Regions from separate parts of the Homo sapiens genome. Here region 1 is linked to region 2. Evidence: fine-mapped expression QTL. A gene starts in region 2. The other region holds a variant in brackets. All regions are shown on one strand. Distances are from middle to middle. Region 1 has its middle 23 kb from the start of RTP1. Region 2 holds the start of RTP1 (receptor transporter protein 1).

Region 1 (5,383 bases), 23 kb before region 2:
CTCCCCATCCCCACACTTCAGCCTCCATGAGATATATGGAAACAGTCAAATTATTATGTTTTAAAGTCATTTGAAATAATTCACCATTGAGTAAGCCACAGATTTCATAATGTTAGGTTAATTTTTTCCCCAAGTTTTCAGAATTTTTAAAAATTCAATTTTTTTGTTTTATAATTATGTAAAAAATAACATGGACCCAAAACAACACAACACAACAAAGCACATTTAGAAATATCTGTGTTCTACCTGTGTCTCCTCTACCCTGTTCCCTCCTCCCCAGTGAACAATAATATTCCTTAGTTTTTAACTTATCTTTCCATTTATTTTTAATATAGTCAAATATGTATCTTTCATCCTTCGAGGAAAGGTAGCAATCTTTATATACAGTTCTGCCCCTTGGTTTTTTCTTTTCCTTTTTTTGTTTTTTAGTTGAGAGGCTATCCTGGATATCACTCCATAATGGTTTATAGAGATTATCCTCATTCTTTTGTTTAGCTCCATAGTTCTTTACTGGGTGGTGTTTCATATTTTATTCCTCTTGTATCTTACCATAGGTAAGGTATGCCGTACAGTTTAGGTTGTTTCCAATTCCGACTGCTACAAACAACATAGTACTGAATAGCGATTTGTGTATATCATTTTCTGTTTTTGTCAACATATGTTAGGCATAAATTTCTAGACATAGGATTGCTGGGTCAAAGGGAAATGCATGTATTATTTTGTTAGATATTTTTGACTGTTTTAAAAATAGAACATATTATTATGTTGTATGCATCTTTGAAAGCTACTTTAAACTTTTTTATAAAAAGAACATTGGGGCATAAATTACTTTTAATATTTATTATAATAATAATATGAAGCACTAAGTAACATACATTTATAATTATATAAATATCTATCTTTTATAGGCATAAGACTCTGTTATAAAAATTAATATTCATCAGGGATTATCCACAAATTTCCCTTTTCCCCCCACTCCACCAAAGTGAATGCAATTGCTGGATGGACCTTTCCCCACTCTTCCACATGCTTTTCTCATCCCTCACTCCCTACATTTGTCATTGCTAGACCAGTCTCTACAGACTTTTGTAAGAATGGATCAAGAAGGATTTTATGGCAGGGAGAATGACCCAGGGAGAAAGTTGGAGGGATAGGAGGTGAGAAAAGTGGAGGCGAGGGAGGCTGAAGGTGAACAACATGGTGGAGAGGGGGAGGCAGCAAACGAAAGGTGCTGGGGGACACAGAAGGGAAGAAGTAGAGGGGAAGAGACATAGGAATATGAGAAGTGTTGCTACAACTTGTGAGTCTGATCCACTCTCATCTTCTTTTGGAAAAGCAAGTTAATAAAATTCTTCTATAATTGCTTTTCTGGCTCTTATACTGTGTATCTTGAACATGACACCACATAGAGACTGATCTATATGGACTGTGACTTCCATAGGGCATCAAGTCTTCATAATGAAAACACCTGAGAGTTTACAGATAATACAATACTGAGATTTAAGTTGGCTGTTGGTGTGAAATAAGTTATGTATGAATTAATATAAATGCTGTAGCCTGTGTACTAACTGAAGCCCACCCATATCCCTATAATGTAGGTATGCCTCTTTCTAATTATAAGCAGACCTACAAGGCAAGACTGAGTCACACCAGATGTCCACTTACATCTTAATGCTTGAGTCCAAGTCTTCTGGCATAAAATTATATAGATCACAGGCAAAATATCTAAAAAAGAAGAAAAAAACCCATAGCAACAGAAAGTAAAATCTGATTGTTAGCAAAGCCAATGCATTAGCTAAACAGAATAGTCCGGGGCATCAAAATGTTAGCAAGCATGGCTGCCCTCTAAGGAGAAACTGAGGTCAGGTTGCCCCAGATCAAAGCCCGAGGAGAAGACAGATCCTGCCGTGCACAGAATTCATTCACTGGAAAGAAGCCTTCTGGGCCAAGTCCCTGATGGCGTTGAGAGCTGACTGGAAATGCATTCCCTGAGAGAAGGGTTTTGTAATCCTTGATTTAGTTTATTTCAGTCTGTGGAAAACCTTGTTGCTGAATTCAGGATTCTTTCTTCCAGAGAAGATTTGGGCTTGTGTTTGCAACAGCCTTGGACAGCTACAGACCTGCAATTCCTTTAATCCCTTTCCTTGTGTCAGGCATAATCCGGGAACC[T/C]GAGTTGATTCTGCTCTCCCTCTGCTCAAAGTCCAGCTCTGGATTGTTGTGTTGATATTAGCATTTGCCCTGAGGGCAGCTCCCTCTTTTCCTGCTCACTGCTGTGGTTTCACCTCAAGGTTTTAAGAGTAAATGTAAAATTTCCATATATTTATCTCCTTTATCCTCATAAGAACCCTGGGAGATAGCAATAATTACCTGCCTCCCTCCAGCAGCCAAAAGAGGGAATAAGGCGTTAGAGGATACCAACTCCTTGAAAGTTACAGGCCCAGTTAAGTGGTGGAGTCAGCTTTGTCTGCCTCACTCCAAAGTGAAAGTTTTTGTTTTTTTTTTTTGACAGAGTCTTGCTCTGTTGCCTTGGCTGGAGTGCAGTGGCGCGATCTTGGCTCACTGCAACCTCCACCTGCCGGGTTCAAGCCATTCTCCTGCCTCAGTTATGGCCTTCAAAAAGCCACTTTACTGTTTCTCCTCATTTCAGTCCAGACTCCGGGCTGCCAACCGTCTCTTTTTAAAACATGGGAATGTACCATCATTCTAACCATCCTTGATATTCCATCTCTACTTCCCACCGAAATGCGTAAAAGCACATTTTTTTTTTTTTTTAAGAGATGGAGTCTCGCTCTGTCACCCAGGCTGGAGTGCAGTGGCCTGATCTCGACTCACTGCAACCTCCACCTCCCGGGTTCTAGCAATTCTTCTGCCTCAGCCTCCCGAGTAGCTGGGATTACAGGTGCATGCCACCACGCCTGGCTAACTTTTTGTATTTTAGTAGAGACGGGGTTTCAGCATGTTGCCCAGGCTGGTCTCGAACTCCTGAGCTTAGGCAATCCACCTGCCTTGGCCTCCCAAAGTGCTAGGATTACAGGCATGAGCTACCACACCAGGCCGTAAAAACACATTTTGCCACAGCATTGAGAATTAAAGATGGCAACAGACCACTTGCCAATGTCTGGAAAAATTCTCACTAAGTGAGACATGGAGGAGCTTCGAATGACAAACTTTCGGGCGATAACACTCACTTTGACCTGTGAAACAAAATGGCAAGGCTGGTCATGACGATGTCAAATAGCAGATTTGACACTCCCCTCCCCCTATTCCTCTCTCTAGGCCATGCCATCCCCGGTTTCTAACTCGCCACAACCACTGAACAAAGCAGTTGTCTGGGGTGGGAGGAAAACAGCAGTAGGGTCTGTCAGTTTCCTCCCAGCATGAGATGTAAAAACAGCCTAGGCATGGCTGAGTGTGGTGGCTCACGCCTGTAATCCCAGCACTTTGGGAGGCCGAGGTGGGTGGATCACCTGAGGTCAGGAGTTCGAAACCAGCCTGACCAACATGGTGAAACCCTGTCTCTACTAAGAATACAAAAATCAGCTGAACATAGTTTTCACGCGCATCTGTGTGAAGAGACCACCAAACAGGCTTTGTATGAGCAACATGGCTGTTTATTTCACCTGGGTGCAGGCGGGCTGAGTCTGAAAAGAGAGTCAGCGAAGCGAGATAAGGGTGGGGCCGTTTTATAGGATTTGGGTAGGTAAAGGAAAATTACAGTCAAAGGGGGCTTGTTCTCTGGCGGGCAGGAGTGGGGGTCGCAAGGTGCTCAGTGGGGGGTGCTTTTTGAGCCAGGATGAGCCAGGAAAAGGACTTTCACAAGGTAATGTCATCACTTAAGGCAAGGACCGACCATTTACACTTCTTTTGTGGTGGAATGTCATCAGTTAAGGTGGGGCAGGGCATATTCACTTCTTTTGTGATTCTTCAGTTACTTCAGGCCATCTGGGCATATAAGTGCAAGTCACAGGGGATGCGATGGCTTGGCTTGGGCTCAGAGGCCTGACTGACATTCCTGCCTTCTTATATGAATAAGAAAAATAAAACAAAATAGTGTTGAAGTGTTGGGGCGGCGAAAATTTTTGGGGGGTGATATGGAGAGAGAATGGGCGATGTTTGTCAGGGCTGCTTCAAGCGGGATTAGGGGTGGCGTGGGAACCTAGAGTGGGAGAGATTAAGCTGAAGGGAGGTCTTGTGGTAAGGGGTGATATTGTGGGGATGTTAGAAGAAACATTTGTCGTATAGAATGATTGGTGATGGCCTGAATATGGTTTTGGATTAATTGAGAAACTAAATGGAATAACAGAAGGAGAAAAACAGGTATAAAAGGTCTAAGAATTGGGACGACTCAGGATATCTGATTAGAGAGTGCCTAAGGAGATTCAGCATAGTCCTGCCAGCAAAGATTATTTATTTACTTCAAGAGTTAAGAGTGGCAGTTTGGGGATACCACCAGGAGATATCAGCTGTGATGGCTTGGAAAAACAGTGTAAACCGGCAGTGTAAACAAGAGCAGGGCATGTATGAGTAGTTGAGAATGGTGAATAGGAGTATGACTAGACAGAAGATAGTAGGGATGACAAGTTTTTTTGGGGGCACAGTCTAAGTTGGTCTGGTGTCTGGAATGAGACTGGGGCCTAATAAAAAGGAGCGTCTATACAGGAGCTCAAATGGGCTGTACCTTGTAGCATTCTGACGACAGGTCTGACTTCTGAGAAGGGAAAGTGGTAAAAGTATTGTCCAGTCCTTTTCAAGTTGGTGGCTGAGCATGGTGAGGTGTGTTTTTAAAAGACCTTTAGTCCATTCTACTTTTCTTGAAGACGGAGGACCGTAAGGGATATAAAGGTTTCACTGAATACTAAGAGCCTGAAAAACTGCTTGGCTGATTTGACTAATAAAGGCTTGTCTGTTATCAGACTGTATTGAGGTGGGAAGGCTAAACTGAGGAATTATGTCTGACAGAAGGGAAGAAATGACCGTGGTGGCCTTCTCAGACCCTGTAGGAAAGGAATCTACCTATCCAGTGAAACTGTCTGCCTAGACTAAGAGGTATTTTAGTTATCTGACTCAGGGCATGTTGAGTAAAGCTAATTTGCCAGTCCTGGGTGGGGCAAATCCTTGAGCTTGATGTGTAGGGAAGGCAGGGGGCCTGAATAATCCCTGAGGAGTAGTAGAATAGCAGATGGAACACTGAGAAGTTATTTCCTTGAGGATAGATTTCCACGATGGAAAGGAAATGAGAGGTTCTAAGAGGCGGGCTAGTGGCTTGTACTATAGCATAACCTGCCTTTGCCGGTTTGTGGCGATTAGGCCTGGTGGAACTGCCATCAATAAATCAAGCATGATCAGGGTGAGGAACAGGAAAGAAGGAAATTTGGGGAAATGG
Region 2 (5,383 bases):
CCATACATGACTGAAGTTAGAGGGGAGCTTACCTTTGTCATCTACCCTAATTCTTCATTGAACAGATGGACAAACTGAGGCCAAGGGAAATTAGTGGCTTGCCCAAGGTCACAATGTCAGCCAGGAGCAGAGCTGGGCTATGTGTCTCCTGACTCCCAGTTCAGTGCTCTCTCCATTGAGCCAAGATGCCTGGCATCAAATGATTGAGGCTTTACAGGGTTGCTGTGCCTAGAGATGACTTTCTGTACCATATTTTCTTTGGTAAGATTTCAAGCTAAATATCTCTCTCAGCTCTAAAATATTTATACCGAGTATCAGGGGTCTGTGGACACCATTGCTTCATTAAGTTTGGCAGTAGAGGCAGCATCCCCAGCAGTAGCAGGGAGCCTGGTGGGTCAAGTACAACTCACCCCTCTTCTGGGGAGATGTGGCCTCAGTGTGGGGGGGCCCCAGTGAACCATTTGCTGAAATGATATAAACTTCATTTGCAATTCTTGGGGTCTGTAACGGCCACGTGAGTGATGAAGAAACACACATTTAATTAGCAGATGTTATGTTCTAGATTCCACGCTGAGCATCACAATGGCTAAAGCTGGGGCTTTGTAGACAGTCATATAGGTTTAAGTCCCAGTTCAACTAGTTATTAGCTGTTAAATCTTGTGCAAGTTATCTAACCTCTAGACTTTAGCTCACATATCTGTAAAATGGAGCTGCTGCTGCTGTTACCTACCTGTCAAGTTTGTTATTGAATGAAATAAATTAATATTTATAAAGCACCAGAACAATGCTTTCTAAGCACTTACCAGGTAAGTGCTGTATAGTGATTGCTATATAGTAAGTGCTATATGGTGATTGCTGTTACTATGCAAATTAAAATTATATTCACATAAAACATTAACACGTATTTTTTACTAGGATGAAAAGATACAGATTATATACATTAGAATTGCTACCTATGAGTCTATATGGAAATTTTTTTTTTTTTGTAAAAGCAGCCAGGCACGGTGACTCATGCCTGTAATCCCAGCACTTGGGGATGCTAAGGTAGGCAGATCACCTGAGGTCAGGAGTTTGAGACCAGCCTGGCCAACATGGTGAAATCCCATCTCTACGGAAAATACAAAATCAGCCAGGTGTGGTGACGCATGCCTGTAATCCCTGTTACTTGGGAGGCTGAGGCAAGAGAATCACTTGAACTTGGGAGGTGGAGGTTGCAGTGAGTCGAGATTGTGCCATTGCACTCCAGCCTGGGCAACAGAGCGAGACTCTGTAACAACAACAACAACAACAACAACACCACAACCAGGCAAGCCATTCTAAAGCCCCTGCTTTTAATCACAGCAGATACTGTTTTGTTATTATCCCACTGAGAAGATGAATAAACTGAGGTTAAAATAGTGTAAATCAAGGCATCAAACATCCATGAAGCGGCAGGAGAAGCACTTGGAAGATGGTTTCTGGTATCAGATGGGTGATTTTAAGTCCCTCTTTTTCATCACTAAACTTCAAGATCTGCTGGCTGTCCAAAATTCATACTGTTTGAAGAGCCTGCTCAGATTCTGCTAGCCACACCAAGCTTTTGGAGAGAGTGGAGTCAAGAGACGTGTTTTCCAATTGTAGGAAGTGTTGTTTCTAATGCATGCGATGAGCTTCGTCAACAAGTTTATACAAATAGATGGGAAGAGTGTAATGTGAGAAACTGAAATAAAACCAAAATGCCCTAAAAGACAGGATTGGCTAAATAAATTATGCCTATCCATATAACAGAATATAGGTAGCCCATAATGTACTACTACGGAATATGACCTAGAAAAATATTCATGACGTATTATTTTTTGAAAATGTCACAATGTGGTATATAGAATGTATGTGGTGTACAGAATGTGTGTGTATATACACACACATACACTTGTACATGTACAGAAAAATGGTAAGCGGGATGTACATATCGTAATGTTAACAGTAGTCATCTCGGGTGGGGTTTTATGGAAGAGTCTTACTTCTCTTTTCTTTCATCTATATTTTGTATTTTTTCTAGAATAAACCCATATGATTTTTTAAAAGGAAAAATAATTTATTAAAAATAGCAGCAGAGGCATGTATAGTAAAGGCTGTTTTGCCTGTGGGTGGTGCTCCTCTTCTGCGCTTCTATAATCAGCTTGGAAATAATCTTGTCTGCTCCTGCCTGGCTGATGCAATGCTCCTACCTTTGTGCACAGGTGGCTGTTCTTGCACAAGGCCATTGCAGCATGGATCCTATTGCACAGTTATTCAGTACACAGTCAGCTACAAGCACTGACATAGAGCTTGGCACATGTCTGCAAACCCTACCCACATGCTCGGATATGTTTGAAATGAATGAATTAATGAACCGGTCTGGGGTCAACAGCTTGAATTTGTATACAGGCTCCGCCATTTATAGGCTAGGTGAGTCCTAGGCTCCTGATCTGTACTGCAGCAATAGTAATCATAACTTAAGAGACCTCCAATTGTGTTTTGAAAATGGCAAAGTGCTGGTCACAAGATGGCTGGGGAAGCCGAGAGAGAGTTTATTATTATTGCTCCATCTACTAACAAATTTACATCTCCCCATCCCTCATTTCTCCTTGGCTGCCTAAGGCATCATGGTTACCGTAGCAGCCAGATGCTGATGATGCCTCCAGGGGACGGCAAGGTGAAACTGAGCCAGTTCCCAGTCCTCACCTCCCCATACTCTTTCCAGGCCAGGGTGAGATGGTCTGAAGCTCAATCTCTGGTCAGGTCCCCCACTCTGTCTTGGATCATTTAGACCCACAAACTCTGCCTCTGCAATCTCAGTTCAGGGCCTTGAAACACCTCTTCAGAGACTCCCTCCTCCCCAAGCTCTGTCTTCTGGCAACCTGCCTGGTTGCCGTGGAAACAGGTTCCACTGCGGACAAAGGAGGGAGCTGGGTCCTGCTTCCTCCTGGTCTTGTCGATGAGGATTTTTAGACCGTGGAGACTGCGCTGCCCTGCCCTGCACCTACCCTCACTCTCCGTGTTCTCACTAAGGTGGAAATTGCCTTCCCTCACTACTGACGAGACCATGTGTAAAAGCGTGACCACAGATGAGTGGAAGAAAGTCTTCTATGAGAAGATGGAGGAGGCAAAGCCGGCTGACAGCTGGGACCTCATCATAGACCCCAACCTCAAGCACAATGTGCTGAGCCCTGGTTGGAAGCAGTACCTGGAATTGCATGCTTCAGGCAGGTGAGTAGCCCAGGAAGGTGGATCCCTGCAGGCCGCCTCTAGGTCCCTAGCTCTGGGGCACCTTCCAAGGAGAGGAAGATTACGTAGAACCCAAGTGTTTAGCTTCAATCTCACTATTAGGCTGGCGTAGACTGGAAGTCAGAGAAAGAGTCCCTAACTGGGAACTACGACACTTGAGTTGGATTTCAGCTCTTCTACTGATCACCTGTGTTACTCTTCCTCTCTGAGTCACAATTTTTCCGTCTGGAAAATAAAGACATAGAATATACGTATGAGTCCTACACACTGACATTTTACATATTTTCTATTTTAACAGTCTCTTAAAAAGTAGTTTAAAACCAGAGAAGAAGGGTTTGAGGCCCACTGGGGGTCGAGACGTCCGTGCTCTGGTCCTGGGACCGGTTTAAATCTATTTAACTCAACTTAATTTCACTTAAAATATTGAATACATGAGATGTGCCAGAAACTGGCTCTATCATTGGCTCCATGGCTGTTGAGGAACTCGATTTTCTTCTTGGACCTGGCTTTCTCCTTTTGCACAGTGAGAGGTTAGCCTGTGGTCCACAGAGCAGCAGGATCGGCATCACCTGGAATTTGTTAAGAAAGCAGAATCTTGGGCCCCTTTTAGATCTGAATCAGAATCTGATTTCAAGAAGAGTTCTAGGTGATTAGTATGTAAAAACTATCTGAGATGAATTTCTAGCACTCTTGTTCATGGGTCCAGAGTGTAGGGGCTTACCTTTGAGACATAAGATGGGGAGGCTGAGTGGTGCAGCCTGGAAGTCAGAAGCAAGGCCTTCCTGCTTGCCCTGGTTCAGCCAATTCACTTCAATTCAGGAAACATTACTGGGCACCTGTTACGTGCTGGGCGCCGGTTCTGCCTCTAGCTGTGTGTACATGGATGCCTCTCTCACTCTGTCTCAGCATAAAAGAAAACATTAATTAGGTGATTTCCAGGTCCCTCTAGTTACGACATTTTTCAATCCAGGTTTTGTAGTCTGGTCTGAGAGAGGAAACAGTCCCCAAAAGATGTGTGAACAAGAAGAGAATGAAAATGTGAAGCTCCTAAACTGGCTGACAGGAGGGGTGTCAAGGGCTGGACACTTACAGGCAGGATCAGGAGCTTCTTGAAGACCTGGAAGGCTGTGGGGGCTGAGTGGGGAGGGCTTGTGGCTGCCCCAGACCTGGCTGGGGACCTGTAATCCCCAGCTGGCCCCAGTCAGGCCTGGGAGACTACAGGCCTTGGGGATCTGGGCACAGACTGCCTCCACCTCCAGGCCTTGTGATGCATTAACTCTGACACTGGCCTGGACGTTGATAGCTAGTAATGGTGTCATTTTCTCCTAATTTGGATCTAGCCTGTTCACAGTCAGTGTTAACAGATAGAAATGTGCAGATGGATTATGTGTTTCTTATCTGGTGTGAGAAGGAAGGACTCACCTAGTGCACCAAGCGCATTTTGCCCATGAGGAATAAGAATGACGCCCAATGCTGGGGTGGTGGGAGTTAGGCCTCTGGAAAGCACTGAGGAGGTAGAGCACTGCTGGATGCCCGGTGACATCCTGAGGAACCTGCTGTAGTCCTAGGGGCACTTGCAAGGCTGAGTGGCTTCCTGGGGAAAGCTAATGAACCCAGGGCGCCGGCAACACACTTCCTCCACCTCCAGGCTCTGCTTAGCCTCCACGTCCCCTCACGCCATTCCTAGGGCTGTTTCCACCACCTCCGCCCGTCTTCTATTCCTCCCTCTCCTCCCGTCTCCGCAGGTTCCACTGCTCCTGGTGCTGGCACACCTGGCAGTCGCCCTACGTGGTCATCCTCTTCCACATGTTCCTGGACCGCGCCCAGCGGGCGGGCTCGGTGCGCATGCGCGTCTTCAAGCAGCTGTGCTATGAGTGCGGCACGGCGCGGCTGGACGAGTCCAGCATGCTGGAGGAGAACATCGAGGGCCTGGTGGACAACCTCATCACCAGCCTGCGCGAGCAGTGCTACGGCGAGCGTGGCGGCCAGTACCGCATCCACGTGGCCAGCCGCCAGGACAACCGGCGGCACCGCGGAGAGTTCTGCGAGGCCTGCCAGGAGGGCATCGTGCACTGGAAGCCCAGCGAGAAGCTGCTGGAGGAGGAGGCGACCACCTACACCTTCTCCCGGGCGCCCA

Evidence for each region. PIP is the estimated chance that this variant, and not a neighbour inherited with it, causes the effect.
Region 1: its variant is the best candidate, but not a certain one, in a credible set for the expression of RTP1 in putamen (GTEx, PIP 0.77).

Annotation. Positions count from the first base shown.
Region 1 is chr3:187,171,951-187,177,333 of GRCh38, forward strand. No RefSeq gene overlaps it. Among named protein-coding and RNA genes, the nearest start is that of RTP1, 23 kb to the right of the region's middle. RefSeq lists enhancers at 3,113-3,944, 3,945-4,775, 4,987-5,383. The variant T/C (reference allele first, on the strand shown) is at 2,170.
Region 2 is chr3:187,194,560-187,199,942 of GRCh38, forward strand. RTP1 (receptor transporter protein 1) reads left to right here and starts at 2,927. Exons shown (of 2, transcript NM_153708.3): 1 at 2,927-3,228; 2 at 4,992-5,383. The coding sequence starts at 2,957. LOC101929106 (a long non-coding RNA gene) reads right to left here. Exons shown (of 5, transcript NR_110052.1): 3 at 4,669-5,383; 4 at 3,968-4,143; 5 at 2,531-3,471.